Linked DNA regions of Homo sapiens: region 1 is linked to region 2. A link means that fine-mapping ties the variant in region 2 to the expression of a gene that starts in the linked region. Tissue or cell type: whole blood. Region 2 holds a variant in brackets; the other region holds the start of a gene. All regions are shown on one strand. Distances are from middle to middle.

Region 1 (5,380 bases), 29 kb before region 2:
CTAATTTTTTTTTTGTATTTATACATTTTTATTTTGGTATGTAAGAGAGATACCTGACAAAAGTAACCTGAATTAAACTTTCCATTTAAACTTCCTCTGTGTCTTTATGTTGAGTCAGGCACTGTATTTAGATAACTGTAAATTATTTATCAAGTATGAATGGAGGTCACTCACCCTAATAGTTAAACAGACTGGATTTACATAAATGTGGGGCAATCTTGGTAGGGGTGGTCAGCAAGGCCTCTGTCGGGAGGGAGCACCTGGGCAACGAAGACATAGGGAAGAACTTTGTAGGAAAAGGGGGTAGAACTGACAATAGCCCTGAAGGGGGCATGAGTCTGGTGGGCGTGAGGACCATGCAGAGGCCAGAGTGGCCTGAACTCAGTGAACGATGGCCAGAGTGGTAAATGAGTGAAGGGTACCAGGGGTCTGAGAATGGAGGGGTTTTCCCCACAGTAAGAGTTTCATTTCAATATAAAAGTTCAGAGGCAGCCTGCAGGGAACATAGTAAAGCAGGAAGACCAGGTGGGAGGCTGTGACAGTCATTCAAGGGTGAGAATGGTGACAGCTGGACCAGGGGAGTAGTGGAGGGGGGGATGGAGAGATGGGCTCGAGTCCAGGACCTGTGCTGCTGCCAGAGACCGAGAGACTCACTGAGGCCTGCGGGTGCCAGAGAAAAGGGGAGTCAGGATGAGGACAAGGAGTCCACTGTGAGCATCTCCCTGAGGGGTGGTGTCCTTTGCTGGAACAGAGAGGGATGGCAAAGGACGGGCATCTGGATGATAAATTGGAATAAATGTTTGGGAGGAGACTTGGGAACAGGACCTTTTGACACTAGAGTAGAAATACCAAGTGCTCAGATGGACATAGGTGGAGAACTTGGAGGAGCAATCACAGCATCAGCAAGGAACGTGGAGGATCATTGGGGCGTGAAGTTACTATTACACAGAAGTCCAAGTCCTGGGCAGATTCCAAGGGGTGAATGAAATGAGTCTGCTAGTGACCAGAACCCTCCTCAGGTCTCCCAGTAGCCACAATACCACAAAAAGCCTCAAGAGTGACCTCCCCAAGTCTGTTCCCATTAGGGGACTTGAGTTGTGCAGAATCCGTATAAGACAGCCTCCACCAAACACGTGTCTATGCAGGTCCACGTGCCATGTACATACGTACGACTGATGAAGATCCCCTCCTTGACCAAGCTCTAGCCAGGCTTCCCTGAGCCCCCTTTTCAACTAGGCCTCCACCTTGGCCTATGAAATCTGCAGACTTCAGCAAAAAGGATCGGGTCCATCCTTCCCCCTATATCAAAACGCTTAAACACACAGTTTCTTTTTCTTTCTTTTTTTTTGAGACGGAGTTTCGCTCTGTCGCCCCGGCTGGAATACATTGGTGCGATCTCAGCTCACTGCAACCTCCGCCTCCTGGGTTAAGCAATTCTCTGCCTCAAGCCTCCCAAGTAGCTGGGACTACAGGCACTCACCACGATGCCCAGCTAATTTTTTGTATTTTTAGTAGAGACGGGGTTTCACCATCTTGACCAGGCTGATCTTGAATTCCTGACCCCGTGATGCACCTGCCTCGGCCTCCCAAAGTGTTGGGGTTACAGGCGTGAGCCACAGCGCCCGGCCTAAACACATAGTTTTTAACTGCTCAAAGCTGCATCCATAGGATGACCCCAGACCCCCTAAAGTATCTTCCTGGGAAAGCTGCCAAAAGAACTCACTGTTGGCTATTGCCAACACCTTACAAGCAGCCCCTGATGTCCCTTTCTTAAAGAGTTAACAACAACAACAAAAAACTAAACAATTGTGAATCCTTCCTCTGTCTCTCTGGGATGTAATGTCTCCTACACATCAGGAGTATCCTTCTCAAGAACCTGAAAGCCATTCCTCCAACATGCAATCACCAGGAAGCAAAGGGCCTATCTCCCAGTTACTGTGGGAGGATAGGACCCTGACTCCCATAACAGCCATCTAACAGGCACTGTCGCCTAACCTTACTTACACTGACCCACCCTTCACAAGTTTCACTTTCCTGACTACTGAGTTCCTGCTCATCCCCTTCACATTCCCTCCTCCTCCCTCTTAAACACCTAGTCACTTCTGCACAAAGTTCAGTTCCGTTCACGAGGTACCTTCTTCCCTATTACAATAGTATATTATTAAAATCTGCTTTACCACTTTTACTAGTGTCTAGCTTTATCTTCTACAGTTAATACAAATATACGCACATACACATGCATATATATGCACACATAATAATATATACATACACACATACACGTATATATACATCTATATGTGTATTCTTAATGAATGTTATGTCTTCTCTAATCGTTTGGAAGATATTATCAAGTATTTCTTTGCAGTTTTCCTATGATCTCTGCGTTTCTTTTCTGTTCCTTTGGTCCCTTGCTTCGGTGTGTGTTTTCTTTCCATCTTTTATGCTAGAGGAAGTCCGCAAGCAACAAGTGGTCCTCGGCTCCCACTCCTATGTATGTATGTAGTAGGAAGGAAGCCGCTGAGTGCAGCTGTGCGCGCCGGGGCGGTGCCTGTGCCTCTCTGGATTCCGTGTTTCTTCGGGGGTGCTGAGCAGCGGTGCTTCCGCGTCCGCGTTCTCCGGGTAGCTGATGTGCTGCAGGCTGCAGCCCGCGTGGTCGCGGCTCAGGTCCGTGTTGGGCTGGTAGGACTCCAGCGGGGAGCGAGCATTCCTCCGGAACCTGGGGCTGGACGACAGCAGCAGGAGGCGTGCTCCCATCTCCGGTAGTCCCCGGCTCCCGCTGCTCCCCTTTCTCCCCGGCCTCGGGCGCTGGCGGGCGCGGGCGAGGGGGTAGCGCAGGGGAGGCCCGCCCGCCACGGCAGGGGGCGGAAACCGCGGCCGGGCTCGGGGTCAGCGGCGACGAGCGGGCGGCTGCCCCGCTCGCCCTCGGCCTCCGCGCCCGCCCGCCGCTCCGCAGCGGAGGAGCCCTCAGGTTTGCGTTACTGCGGCCGCCACACCTACCTCAGCCCGCCGCGGCCAGGTCGGGCGGTGCCGCGCAGGCCGCCTCCCCCCCTCGCTTCCCAGTCGGCTTACGCATCCCCGGCGGCGGCGGCGCCGGCATCGGCTAGAGGTTCGGCTCAAGTCGGGGGCACTCGTGTCTGCGCCGAGCGGCGGGCGTGAGCGCGGCCCCTGGGCCCCGCGCGGCGCGGTGCTGCGAGGAGGATCCTCGTGGCCTTGCCCCGCCGGCGGCTTTCCAGAATTTTCTACGATTACGAAGTTTTGGCATTCAACCCTCCATCCTCTCAAACGCCCCACTGTTACTCCGCCCCCTTCCCCTAGGCCCCGCCCCCAGCCGCAGTGCCCTGCCTCTTCCATCCGTCTCCAGCCTCCTCCACGGCCCCGCCCCCTCAGGCCGGTCCGTCTCCCCTCCCACCTCACACCTCCGCCCCGCCCGTCAGCCCTGGCTCCGCCCAGCCACGGGGCTCGCCGCCACAGGCCCCGCCTCCAGCTCGCGGCCCCGCGCGCCGGATCGGCGTGCGTGCGGCTGGAGCCTTAAGCGTTTCCCCCGCCCGGCTTCATCCCTGCTGGCGGCCCAGCGTCGTTCTCCTCCTGCGCGAGGCGGCCAAGGCCTGCTGGCCCGGAGCCGCGCCTCCACCCGCGCGAGGTAGGGCTTCGAGGACCGGCGCGGCGCAGGTCTCCGGAGGCCTCCCGAGAGGGGCTAGGGTCGCCGGGCCGCGCGTGGGAGCGGGTGGGGCCCGGGAGGAGACGGCGCCCCGGAGGGGAGTGCGAGGCCTGGGCCGACGGTTACGGGCGCCGACCGGCGTTGCCTGGCCTGAACGCCCGGCCTTTCGGTGGAGGGCAGCTTGCCCCTGTATGTTGCGCCCTTCCGTGGGTCAGACCGGCGGCAAGGTGAGGCGGCGGCGGCAGCAGCAGCCGCCTTGGGCTCCTGGACGCGCTCCCGAGGTGGGGCGGGTTGGGGAGTGGGGATTGGAGCGTGATGGCTGGACGTCGCCTTCTCGGCGCGGCAGGTCCCGGGAGACGGGGGGACGAGGCGCAGTCCCGCCCTCGGGAGAGCGGAGCCACCTTCACTGAGGGCGCCCGGTTTGGCCCCGGAAAGGCAGGAAGGGGGCGGGGAAGGGATGGCGAGCTCGGGGTGCACCGCCTGTTTCTTTTCTGGTTAGGTATCGTCCTTGGAGAAGATGGAAGCGGAGAGGCGGCCGGCGCCGGGCTCGCCCTCCGAGGGCCTGTTTGCGGACGGGCACCTGATCTTGTGGACGCTGTGCTCGGTCCTGCTGCCGGTGTTCATCACCTTCTGGTGTAGCCTCCAGCGGTCGCGCCGGCAGCTGCACCGCAGGGACATCTTCCGCAAGAGCAAGCACGGGTGGCGCGACACGGACCTGTTCAGCCAGCCCACCTACTGCTGCGTGTGCGCGCAGCACATTCTGCAGGGCGCCTTCTGCGACTGCTGCGGGCTCCGCGTGGACGAGGGCTGCCTCAGGAAGGCCGACAAGCGCTTCCAGTGCAAGGAGATTATGCTCAAGAATGACACCAAGGTCCTGGACGCCATGCCCCACCACTGGATCCGGGGCAACGTGCCCCTGTGCAGTTACTGTATGGTTTGCAAGCAGCAGTGTGGCTGTCAACCCAAGCTTTGCGATTACAGGTATGGTCTTCGTGGACACTCACTGTCCCAGAATGCGCCGTGGGAATCAGGATTTCATAGAGTGGTGTAGAGGCCTGCTTTAATCTCTGCTGATGACCTAAACTCATTTTGAGGAAACAAGCTAATAAATAAACATCCCTGAGTTTGTGCAAGCGTGGCAGCTTTGCAGTAGTCATTTGCTGAGACGATGCATCCAGCCTCCACTCCTCAGCCAGCCTGCCCTTTTGGGTAATAAAACTTGGCTCCTAACGTTAATACAGAGGTTTCTAAGTGGTGCCTGCTTCATGGCCACTGTATATTTTAGCTTTTGTTCCTATCGATTATCTCCTTATTTTAAATAAGGAAAAATGAAATATGGACAAATTAACTTTTCCCTTCAGCCGCAAAACTGATGGGTCACAGGTTTTGTACTATGAATGTGCAGTGAAAACAAGTGTCATTCCAAGGCAGCACTTTTATGTCTTTTGCTAATATAGCTGTTGGTACCATAGCGAAATATACTCAAAAAGAACACTGAAAGGAATATTCCTTTTGACGCTTGGTCTTTCAGGACATGTAGAATCTTAGATAAGTGACCTTGATTAAGCCAAGAATATTTTAATGTCTTTTATATACACACTGGACAACACATTTTTGTCCTTAAATATTGTTTGAAAATAGGTGAAGATGTCCTTTGCTGATGTTGGAAATTGGTAAAGGAGAATGCTGCTTTGCAAATGATCTATTCTAACTCAGTTC
Region 2 (5,380 bases):
TTAATAGCAACAACAGAGACATTAATTCAGAGAAACCTAGAACTGATAAAATAAATAAAAAGAGATCATAAACAGTTTGGGAAAAGAGACAATGAGCAGGGAGTAAGGAGACTGATTATACATTAGTCAAGGAAAAATGTTGCCGTTAGGCGTAATGTTTAGCTCAAAGTCTCTGGGCTGCCATGGCGTAGAAGTAAGCAAGATTTTCTGTTAAAAAGAGTGTTATGTTACTTTATCATATTTTATTTTTCCTAGGCTTTGATGGTAGAGTAAAGCATACAAGCATATAAAATAAAGACTTTTATTTTATTGTCTGACATTTTATTTATATAAAAATACAAATTATTTTTAATTATACAGAAATAAAATAAATTTTATTTATATACCTACAAAATAGTCATTGTCCTCGATACTGGAGGTAGACAGTGATAAATCCCTTGCTCTACATTTACAGTCTAGGGTGAAGAAAGATATTTAAGCCAGTCTGGGCACAGTGGCTCATGCCTGTAATCCCAGCACTTTGGGAGGCCAAGGTGGGAGGATTGCTTGAGGCAAGGAGACTAGCCTGGGCAACATAGTGAGACTCCACTTTTATAAAAAATAAAAATAGCTGAGCATAGTGGCATGTACCTGTGGTCCTAGCTGCTCAGGAGGCTGAGGGAGGCAGATCACTTGAACCCAGCAGGCAGAGGCTACAGTAAGCCATGATTGTACCACTGCACACCAGTCTGGGTGACAGATTGAGACCCTGTCTCCAAGAAGAAACCAAAAAGATATTTAAATCACATTGCAATGCAGTATGAGAAGTTATATAAGAAAAGCATGTGGTCTTACAGGAATAAATAACTGCAATACGTAACCTAGGAGCTACAGAGACTAGGGAAAGTGGCAGTATAAGCAAGTCTTTCTGGAAGAAGTGACAAGCTGGAATCTGAAAATAAGTAAGAGTTAGCTAAGAGAAGGAGGAGGGGAAGATTGCTGTAGGCTAAAAACAGCATCTGCAAAAGACCCAGAGGCATACATGGCATATTTGAGTGAGTTCAGGCTGGAGCATAGCTTTCAGGAAGGAAAGACAAGCGCTGAGGCTAGAGAGATGGACAGAAGTCAAATCACAGAGTGTCATATTTGCCTGGTATTGGATCTTGTATTTCATCATGGGCATTGAAGGGTTAAAGTGAAGCCACTGAAGGGTGGTAATTAGAGGATGACATATTTGCATTTTTTAAGTGTCGATCCAACCGCTCTGTGAGGGATGCATAAGAAAGTAAAGCTAGAGGCAGATAGGCCAGATAGAAACATTTTAGGGAAGAAATGGTGAAGAGAGAGAAAGACATAGAAATAGCATCAACAGTTTTTAGTGATTAAGGGGATGTGGAGGGTAAAAAGTCAAAGAAATCAAAGATAACTGCCAGGTTTCTGGCTTAAACACCTGGGTTGGGGGTGAGTTAACCTACTTAACCAGGAAAGAGTAAGTAAGAGTTAGCTAAGAGAAGGAGGAGGGGAAGATGTTACTCTTTCCTGGTAAGTACATTGGGGAACAGGGAGCAAATTGCAGAAAAGTTGCTTGATCAATTTTTTACATAAGAGTTTTTGGTGCCAGTCCATGGACATGTTTTATGGGCAGTGGATAGATGGATCTGGCCCAGTTTACTTTCCTGAGAAGGAACATCCAGGGAAGTAGAGTCTGTGGTTCCCAGGAAGCAAAGGGAAAGAAGATTTTAGGAAAAGAGGAAGGGGGTCAGCAAGTGTCAGGTGCTACTGAAACAGCAAGTTAGGTAAGTCCTGAAAAAATCACGAGGCTCAACAAAAAGAACATTATTGTTGATGTTGATAGAAGCAGTTCTACTGAAGAGATAGAAAAGGGCAGATGAGAGGCCCTGAGTGAGAGGTAGGGAGCATCTTCTACATGTGCATCTCTCATATATAAGCACATTTATGAAAATAGATGTGAATTCTAAATGGATGTGTGTGGAAATTGTGTATCCTGTAGTCACTATCTATTTGTATTTCTTTAAAGCTAGAACTGGATGGTGAGCGAGTAGCACTGCCCAGCTTGGAAGGTATTATAGTTCTGAACATCGGATACTGGGGCGGTGGCTGCAGACTATGGGAAGGGATGGGGGACGAGACTTACCCTCTAGCCAGGTATGTACATTTGTGGTCTGTTTTTTTATGTCACTATTTTATTTAAAGCAATCTCTTGTTTATAGACTTTAACATTTTTCCTCAAATTTTCTTTTTTGTGTATCTCATTAGTTATAAATATTTTTTAAGTTGATGGTCCAACTGTGTTAAAAAGTAATTGCTCTAGCATAACTGATTTTTTATTGCATCATATAATCCATATTTTCTTTTTCCAATTTTAGGCATGACGATGGTCTGCTGGAAGTCGTTGGAGTATATGGGTCTTTCCACTGTGCTCAGATTCAAGTAAAACTGGCTAATCCTTTTCGAATAGGACAGGCACATACAGTGAGGGTAGGTGAAATATAGCTGTAACAGGCTAATTTGTCCCAATCCAATTCTAAGCTGTTGATATGTAAAATATACATGCTATACTTTTCTTTAAACAGTGGTTTATGGCTCATGCAGCTGGTCACTGTACACTAGCGGCTAGAGTGGGATGAGGAAGAAACAGAAACATGGCTCAAGATCCATGAGATAAAACGTTCACTTGAAAAAAGAATTCCTTAATCAATGAATAAAAACATATTCAGATTAATATTTTCTAAAAATGAAATGCATAAGGGTTAAGGGATTGTGGATGGTATTATTAAGGAAGACCTTTCTAAATTTGGGGGGACTGACTTTTAAACATTATTTGTTCCCTAATATCAGCTGATTTTGAAGTGCTCCATGATGCCAATGCAGGTGGATGGGGAGCCTTGGGCCCAAGGGCCCTGCACTGTCACCATAACTCACAAGACACATGCAATGATGTTATATTTCTCTGGAGAACAAACAGATGATGACATCTCTAGTACTTCGGATCAAGAAGATATAAAGGCGACTGAATAGATGGATGAGGGAGTGAAAACTTTGCATAGAATCCTCACGCAAGTAGATACATGTTCATCCAAAAGTATTAATAGAAATTCTCTATCAGCTATTCAGTCTTAATTTCACTAGTAGTATAATGGGTATACATTTTTGTAAATAGCATCCCCAAACCAGCCAGCCTTCAGTTATTTACAAATGTTTGTTCTTTTTTCAGCAAAATACTTCAAATGAATAGTATTAACTTAC[A/G]AAAAGTCACAAAAACTTACATGAGAGTGAAAATTTGTTATGACTGTTTTGAGAGTGGGACTCACTCTGAAGTATGTGCTGTCTCATGTCTTATTTTTGAACCATGCATATGATGGACACACAATGGATGGACACATTATATCTCCAACAAGGTGTGGGTGGAAAGATCAAATTAACCTGCTTTTTTGAAAGGAAATGATTACTGTCAAACCAGCATGGTTAATTGTGAGCATCCTCCTGCAGCATGCCCCTTAAGATTTTCTACAACCCAAACCAAGTGTATGTATTGATTTCTAGGAACCCCCAAAAGGAGAATAGTAAAAAAAGATCATACTTAAAATTTGTATTACAATTTTTATTTTAGGAACTTATTCAGACACGTAAATGTTGTTTAATTCTGTAGGTAACCATTTGAGCTGCAATTCAGGATCTTTTTTATAACACCAGTGTAGCCAAAAGAGAAACAGATAAGTGAATTGGTAAGAAATAAGATTCAGAGCACTTGGGATTGTAAGTTATAGGTTCTGAGCTGAACTGTTTATCAGCCGCTCTTTTTATTAAAAGACAGTGTCAACACTTCAAAAAACGTGCTTAAAGGAGACAACGGTGAGATTAATTGCTTAGAAAAAGCTCAAGGCTGACTGATAAGTTTTAAAAATTTGGTGGTCTTGTAGTATTTTGAAATACAGTAGTCTTTTAACAGAATTTCCCCTTAGGGAGGTAAGTGGACAGAAATCTTTGCTAAAATGTTTATATCATATTTATTTTAAAATGAGAGAGATATATTTTTAAATTATTTATTATTTACCTTGTGGTATGGTACCTGTGTTTAGTGTTTACGTTCTGTAGCTTTATTTAATAAGTTAAATTGATCACATAAATTCTGCTAGTCACAATCAGATAGAAATTTAGTCTATTAATTAAAATTCTAATTTAATTCTCCTGACAGAAATCTAGATATTCTTATTCTTCACAAATATTCCTCATTGTATTGAAAAATGAAGGAGGGCATGAAAAGCACTAGGGAACTACTTTTGGATAACTGAAAGCTTTGTTTCATTGTTTTATTTGCCCCTCAATTGCCACAAACTTACTGAAGGGCTAGTTTCATGGTTCCCATTAGAGGGTGCTTGTTCGCTGCTGTTGACCAGCCCAAGGGTCGTGACCCACAGGTCGGCTGACCCAGAGGGCATCCAGCCTGGTGTTTTTCTGACACATGGCCCAGGCTTTGTGGTCTTTCATGACATTAATCTCTGAAAGATCAGAATGTATCCCCCAAAATACCATTAGCTATCTTTGAGGGTCTATTATGAATCTGTCATCCATGAATTGCCATAAACCTAAGTTTGCCTCACCTCAGGCCCAGACCATGTTTTCAAAGAGCAACTTAGTAATGTATACAGTAGTCAGTACATTTTATGAAATACTCTATTTTGCTAAATTAACCTCTTGCAGATCTCCTCAGGTGATCTTAAATTCTAGTCTTGAGAAACTTTGTGAGCAGATCTGTTTTCAGCTTCTTTATATACCTTTCATGGTAAGTAACCATGGCAGTGAGGATGGCAGAGTTTTGTTTTTTTTTTTTTTAATGGGCCAATCATGTTCTGAGTATTATGAAGTTTATCCTTTCATTCATGATCAAAATTGTTAAAGACATCACATTTTATAAATACACTGTTAAATCCACTTTGCTGTAGGTTATAGTTTACCTGTTATATAATTCGTAGTGCTAATTGTAGTAGAAGCAAATCAATTTAGGATGTTGGAACGAAAATAATCACAATAACTAATACAGCTTTTTAATTGTGAAAACTACAATTAAAAATTATAATTTTAATACCAACCATAATATTACACTGTATTTAGAACAGGCTTATGTAAAATGCCCTCATTTATCTAAATAAGTTGATTTTTTGGTTATTGTAATCTAGTAAGGTTTTTGCATCACTACTGGTCTGTCATGAAGTTTTTCTGCTGGCTTATTCACTTATTTAGACTTCATTTAGGGAAGCTATTTCAGAATACCATCTCATAAAATGTATCATTATCTTGTTTTTGCAAAATTCACTTACTTTTTGGGCACATTTACCCAGCATTTCAAATAAGTGTATAGGCATGTGCCTTGTTTAAGTAC

Evidence for each region. PIP is the estimated chance that this variant, and not a neighbour inherited with it, causes the effect.
Region 1: it holds the start of C17orf67, and the variant in region 2 is fine-mapped to the expression of C17orf67 in whole blood (TOPMed, PIP above 0.99).

The regions. Positions count from the first base shown.
Region 1 is chr17:56,830,618-56,835,997 of GRCh38, forward strand. It overlaps C17orf67 (chromosome 17 open reading frame 67), which reads right to left and starts at 3,303. Exons shown (of 8, transcript NM_001085430.4): 1 at 3,001-3,303; 2 at 2,281-2,725. It overlaps DGKE (diacylglycerol kinase epsilon), which reads left to right and starts at 3,534. Exons shown (of 12, transcript NM_003647.3): 1 at 3,534-3,643; 2 at 4,161-4,642. The coding sequence starts at 4,179. RefSeq lists silencers at 2,531-2,825, 2,799-3,868 and enhancers at 3,193-3,790, 4,259-4,658, 4,390-4,987.
Region 2 is chr17:56,859,774-56,865,153 of GRCh38, forward strand. DGKE (diacylglycerol kinase epsilon) reads left to right here. Exons shown (of 12, transcript NM_003647.3): 10 at 2,018-2,145; 11 at 2,367-2,478; 12 at 2,839-5,380. The coding sequence ends at 3,018. All of the region lies in intron 1 of LOC124904037 (a long non-coding RNA gene), which reads right to left. Among named protein-coding and RNA genes, the nearest start is that of DGKE, 28 kb to the left of the region's middle. The variant A/G (reference allele first, on the strand shown) is at 3,247.